2 linked regions of the Homo sapiens genome follow. The protein of the gene in region 1 purifies or fractionates together with the protein of each later gene. This does not show direct contact. Each region holds a gene or a part of one and is shown on either strand. Other genes may lie near its edges.

Region 1 (3,500 bases):
TATTATCATCAAAATTATTATAATTATTATTCACATTCTTCTTAGTTGCCCAGAAAAGTGGCTTATACAGAACTGACAGAGACAACCCAAAATATTAATATTACTACTATTACTACTAACCACACCATTAAAATTTGTTGAACACGTATTTCTGTTCCCAAGGCACAAGTCATAGAACCTGACTCTAAGAGAGCAACTTTTTCAACTCTCAGCTGTAGAAGAGATTCTCTTAAAATCCTTACTACTTTTTAGATTTAAAAAGTTATATGTTGCAGGTAACTGATTGCATACTTCTCTAGGTTTTTAGTTAATCCTTTTTTCAGTTTTCAAAACTAACGGTGAAAAGGTAATTTGAAGTGTTATAAAGCTAGTTCAATAAATTTTGTTACATCAGAAATCATTTTTCTGATTATGCTGAGTGTGACTTTGGGCATATCTCTTTGCCAACTTGAGACCTTTATTTTTTACTTTATCACTTGTAAAACAAAGTAACCAGACTGTTATCTAGAATTCCTTTATAAGAAAAATTTTCTATGACTAGCATTAATTACTTACTCAATGGAAACAATGACAGCATTCAATTCCTCAGCCATTGCTGTACACAGCTCATCATAATACCTGATTTCTAAAAGACACAAAGGGAACAATCATTACAAAACAGGTCATTTAATACTGTCCACTCATAAATTCTGCTAAGTGTGAATTGTTTTTAGGCTTGGAGCTAATACTAAAAACAAATAATAAAAAGCAAATGTGAACAAATAATAGAGTTACATGTACACATGAAAAATTAAATCTGATTTCTAATAACATGCAACTACTATATAACAGGAAATGCATAGTTTAGTTTTGAATATATTACTATCTAAATATTTATTTCATAACGGACTATATGAAATGCACCAAATTAATCCTGATTTTATAGCTCTTCAAATGTATACATCTTTCTGGAAAAAAAATCACAGCAAATAAGCAGTCTCTTCCTTAGAATCATGCAATTTTAGGCTGGGAGTGGTGGCTCATGCCTGTAATCTCAGCACTTCAGGAGGCTAAGGAAGGAGATCATTTGAGGTCAGAAGTTTGAGACCAGCCTGAGCAACATAGCCAGATGCTGCCTCTATAAAAAAATTTTTTTTAATTAGCCAGGCATAGTGGTGCACGCCTGCAGTCCCAGTTGCTTGGGAGGCTGAGGAAGGGGGATTACTTGAGCCCAAGAGTTTGAGGTTACAATGAGCTGTGATAGAGCCACTGTACTCTGGCCTGGGTGACAGAGTGAGATCTTATGTCTAAAAATAATAATTTTAACAATTTTGCTCTTTTAACACTTCATTTGCTGCAGTTCAGTAAAGTGATCAATTTGAAGAATATGGTATTTTCTTTAAATGAACACGTAAAAAACTAGAATTTTAGGAAGTCTTAGCATTTCTTAGAGGATTCCAAAGGTCTGCAGTAACAGAACCAATTTAATATGTAAGAATTTAATTCTTAGTTACTCTCAGTAAATTAAGATCTATATTGTGCCAACTGAGAGCCAAACATTTCCTTATTTATAGGGTTTCCAAGGCAGTCTTAGAATCGGAAGCTTAAGAATTACATAGACACCTGTTACCTCCACCTGCTCAAGTTCTTCCTCAGGCAGAAGTGATCAGTCAAAATTATGCAGAAAAGGCCAGGCTGACTCTTGTAATCCATCCCATTCCTGGCACCCATACTTGCTGTCCTCCAGTACAATGTTTTTCCTGGCAAGCGTCCAATGCTACAGATTCAATCTCTTTTAAGGCAGAAACTCCTTCTTATTCATTTTTGTATCCCTACACCCGAGCACACCTTAGACTGACCAATGGTCCAGACTTGCCCACAACTGTTTGAGCTTTTGCACTGAAAGACCTGCAGCCCAGCAAACCCCTTGGTCTCGGGCAAACCTACATACTCATGAACAGCTATTGAAAATGTGAAAAAAAATCACTGAATAAAAGAATAAACAACGGATATGGAATTAAATAAGATTACTAGAAAAAGTCAAACCTTTTGACCTTTGTTGCTTTTAAAAAAAAATCACATAATGATAAAATAAAAAAAACAAGTTGCCATTGCTTTTAAACTAAGGGGATGCCAAAAGCTCTGGACTGAAGATGAGGAAGTAGCTCCATGATCATTTATTAGCAGAGACAAGACCCCGAATTCCGCCTTGGGAGGTTCTCTTCTGGGCGGCTCTGTTTGGCTGCCTGCCATTTTGAATGTGTTCTACTCATAAAAATCATCCAAATCTAAAGAAAATATTCTTGAACTTTGCAAGATTGTTTCCTTTGAATGGTTGCATATATTTTTACCTTTGCTTTCATAAGCAGATAAAATGTTAACATGTGTATTAAGGAATACCTGGTCTATTTCATAGAAATATATCTTCAAAACACAAGTTGGCAAAAGAAGCACAGATAATTCCCCATATGCGTGCCTGGTGAAACTTCACCTTGTTTTGGTGCAGAAAGCTGTATCAGCACTGCACAATAAGTTAGTCTGTGATTTAGATCATAGGAAATATTTTTACAACAGTCTACCTGAATTGACAAACAAACTAACAAGCAAAAAACCTTTACAAAGGATAACCATTTAATTTATCACCCAAACCAGGACCCTTTTGAGAGTGAAAAGGGGGCACTAGTCATAATTTTGCTGGGACAACAGGGGTAACTGGGACCATCCAGGGGAACCTAGATAAATGGTCCCCTTCTTTCCCACTAAGAAAGCCAAACTCAGTTACGCATCTCCCCCAAGGCCAACCACAACAACAAACCATCTGAAGGTGACCAGGACGCACTTGCACTTGCCAAGGCCCAGCCTCCTCCGTGGATATAAACGACGCTGCGTTTCAGTGGCTCTTCGGGCTTCGGAGGGCCTTCAAACACTCTGACTTCCACACCATCAAAGTCTGTGTCGGTCACCTTCACTTGGGCAGAAGACCACGCGCTTTTTTTGCCAAAAGAAACAATGATAAAATTCAGTGCCAGCAGGTGATGGCTCAGTCCCAGGTAGTGGATCAGGTTACTCTGCAGGGCGAGGGAGGAAATAAAGAGGGAGGGCGCACGTCAACTTGGCATCACCAGAGCTGCCCTCACCAACTGAGTGTCTGAATTCCTACAAGCAGCTGCCACTGGACTGGAGGGCTCATTGAGCCCTTTTAATACAAAAACCAATTGTATTTACCTTTTGCTTTTGGACAAAATATTTTCATACATGAGATCTCCTCAGGTATCATCAGTCCCATTTTATTGAGAAGGCTTAAACAATAACTATGCTTGTTCATTTCATTGGATAAGTGGTAGTTCTGGGACTCAAACCTAAGATTAGGTTTGAATTCCAGGATTCAGTACCTTTTTTTTCTAAATAAGTATATCACAGTTCCAATAACATACTAGGAGTAAAGAAATAATACTTTATTTCAATGCAAATAAAAGAGGAAAATGTTCTATTTACTTTAATTTCTTTAAATTCCTTTGTAA
Region 2 (3,500 bases), on another chromosome or scaffold:
ACTTGGAAAATCTCTTTTCTAGATTAAATATAAGACACCTCAACCTATAGGAGAAGTATATTTTGCAGAAACTTTTGATAGTGGAAGGTTGGCTGGGTGAGTATTCATTCAAGAGAATGTTTTCTTTGATTTATTAGCTTTTTTGAAGTTATTAGGTTTTGGCCTATGAAAATTATCTCTACTACAGATCTATAAAAAATTTTAAAGTAGTTTAATTGACAATGTAAATCAGTACTTAGTATATTTTTGTAATTGATAGAATGTTTAATTTGAATAGTTATTTATTCAAAGAAAATATACTAATTCCGAATGCAAAGATGAAATTTATAACATTTCTTTATTCTCTAGGACAGATTAACACTCTTAAGTTCAGATGACAAATATGAGTACTGCTCTACTCTAAATAATGGAAAAAACAAAAGTTAATATTAAATGATTATTATGTGTCAGATGTCCTTAAAAAAAGTAGATAATTACCATATTTAATCCCCATTTTACAGGTGGAGAAACCGAGGTTTCTTGTACCTTACCTGTGATCATACAGCTAGTAAATTATAGATTCCAAATTCGGTTTAACTCTAGCCCTTCAGGATTATGTGTAGGCATCCTTATTTAGCATCTAAGTATGAATTTATTGTTGAATGAAAAGTGACTGTATTGGGTGATCTTTTATTGTGTTTCTGTATGCCTTATATCTATAAATTGCTGCTTTTATTGTCAATGACATATATGTATGTTCAACTTTATTTACAGATGGGTCTTATCAAAAGCAAAGAAAGATGACATGGATGAGGAAATTTCAATATACGATGGTAAAATATTTATTTAAGTATTAGATATAACCAGTATGGCCTGGAGTTCACTAAACTTTGAGATTAGATTTTTGTTAAATTGTGTTGGCTGGAGTCCCCCACCCTGCCTCACAATAAAATGTTCAGTCTTTTATCTTGTCCCTCTTCAATATTTCTGAAAAACCCTTCGCTATTTCTGAAAATCTCACTCTTAAGCCAGTTAATCTAGTTTTCTAACTGAACAGTTGAATTTTCACTCTACTGCTGTTAGTCTTTTGCATTTCCTGAAGCAGTATTTCCCAGGCTACTGCTGTCTCTATGGTTTCATCTCAAGCATAGACACACCTTGATCTATAAATTAAATAAATTATAATTTATGGTAAGATTCTCCTAGCAAGTAAAAAGCAGAAGATAGCTAATGAGAGCTACAAGATATGTGGCTGCTTCTGGAATCCTCATCTCCAGGTCTATATCCATTATCATAGGGTGTCTAATAGGATTATCTTCAACCTTAGCTCTAGAAAGAAATGTCCTATAGGCAGGGGTCATATTGTCTTCCCTAATAGGACTACCCTAGAGTATGACCAAATATTTTCTTCTTTGTGGTCTAAAAACCAGCCTCCTTGATTGTTATATGCTGAAGCAAGATCAGCCTCTTCTCACAGTGACTGATAGTGGTAATTTCTTCTTTCTCAGAGGACCTCATACTCATAAACATGTGGCCCTGCACTCAGACTCTGATAAGCAGTTACATCACAACAGCAAAACAGATAGCATGTTGGATGTCAGCTGTCTGCTTCCTTTTCATAGTTTCTGTTTAGTGTAAGATAAAGATCATACCTGCATGTCTTCCTTTGCATGGTGTTCGCCATCCCAGCAAATCCCCTGTGTATATATATACACATATATACATATATACACAAATATATATACATATACACATATATGTGTGTATATATATGTGTGTGTGTGTATATATATATATATATATATATATGCTTATCAACTCCAAAAAGGACACCACCATATGCACAGAAAAAGCAGTAGTGGGATTTCTGGATCAAATAGTAGATCTACTTTCAGTTTTTTAATAAACCTCCATGCTGTTTTCCATAGAGGCTGTATTAATTTACATTGCACCAGCAGTGTATAAATGTTCCCTTTTTACCACATCCATGCCAATTGTTTTTTGACTTTTTAATAATGGCCATTCTTACAGGGGTAACGTAGTATCTCATTGTGGTTTTAATTTGCATTTCCTTGATGATTAGTGATGTTGAGCATTTTCTAAACATGTTCGTTGGCCATTTCTATATCTTCTTTTGAGAAATGTCTATTTATGTCATTTGCCTACTTTCTGATGGGATTAATTTTTTTCTTGCTGATTTGTTTGAGTCTCATGATTCTGGATACTAGTCCTTTGTCAGATTCATAGGTTATTAATATTTTCTCCCACACTGTGGGTTATCTGTTTACTCTGATGATTATTTCTTTCGCTGTGCAGAAGCTTTTTAGTTTAATTAGGTCCCATTTATTTATTTTTGTTTTTGTTGCATTTGCTTTTGGGTTCTTGGTCATGAATTCTTTGCCTAAGCCAATGTCTAGAAGAGTTTTTCTGGTGTTATCTTCTAGAATTTTCATGGTTTCAGATCTTAGGTTTAAGTCTTTAATCCATCTTGAGTTGATTTTTGTATAAGGTGACAAGTAAGGATCCAGTTTCATTCTTCTATATGTGGCTTGCCAGTTTTCTCAGTACCATTTATTAAATAGGGTGTCCTTTCCCTAATTTATATTTTTGTATGCTTGGTCAAAGATCAGTTAGTTGTAAGTATTTTGCTTTATTTCTGGTTCTTTATTCTGTTCCAGTGGTCTATGTGTCTACCTGAGACCATTACCATGCTGTTTTGATAGTATGGCCCTGTATAATTTGAAGTCAGGTAATGTGATGTCTCCAGATTTGTTCTTTTTGCTTAGGATTACTTTGGCTATTCAGGCTCTTTTTTGGTTCCATATGAACTTTTGGATTTTTTTTCCTAATTCTGTGAAAAATGTTTTTGGTATTTTCACAATAATCACACTGAATCTGTAGATGGCTTTGGGCGCTATGATCATTTTCATGATATTGATTCTTCCAATCCATGAGCATGGGATGTGTTTCCATTTGTTTGTGTCATCTATGATTTTTTTCAGCAGTGTTTTGTAGTCCTCCTTGTATAGATAGATCTTTCACCTCTGTTAAGAATATTCCTAGGGATTTTTTTTTTTTTTTTTGCAGCCATTGTAAAAGTCATTGAGTTCTTGATTTGATTTTCAGTTTGGTCGTTGTTGCTATGTAGCAGTACTACTGATTTGTGTACATTGATTTTGTAAGCTGAGACTTTTATTGAATTGATTTTTCAAGTCTAGTAGTCTATTGGATGAGTCTTTTGGGTTTTCTAGGTATGCAATCATATCATTAGCAAACAGTGATAGCTTGACTTCCTCGTTTCCAATTTGTATGTCCTTTATTTCTTTCTCTTGCCAGATTGCGCTGGCTAGGACTTCCAGATAAAGTTGTTACTTCTTAAAATAAGACCTTTATAGGGGGCGAGAGGCAAACTACAAGTTAGTGATAATACAATTCACCATCAATGTGAGAGAAAGAAAACCAAGTACATTAATCTTTTTCAAAAAAATATAATATGACCAAATCAGGGGGAGAAAGAAAAG

What was found. The genes of interacting proteins can lie anywhere in the genome.
Region 2: the proteins of NCEH1 (region 1) and CLGN purify together in Homo sapiens (co-immunoprecipitation; 2 studies listed by BioGRID and IntAct, with this or other methods). This does not show direct contact.

What each region holds. Positions count from the first base shown.
Region 1 is NC_000003.12:172,645,068-172,648,567, forward strand, and holds part of NCEH1 (neutral cholesterol ester hydrolase 1), read right to left. Parts: intron 3,048-3,500; coding exon 2,819-3,047; coding exon of another isoform or gene 2,795-2,818; intron 626-2,794; coding exon 556-625; intron 1-555.
Region 2 is NC_000004.12:140,407,149-140,410,648, reverse strand, and holds part of CLGN (calmegin precursor), read left to right. Parts: intron 1-22; coding exon 23-96; intron 97-753; coding exon 754-812; intron 813-3,500. UniProt on the Homo sapiens protein: Functions during spermatogenesis as a chaperone for a range of client proteins that are important for sperm adhesion onto the egg zona pellucida and for subsequent penetration of the zona pellucida.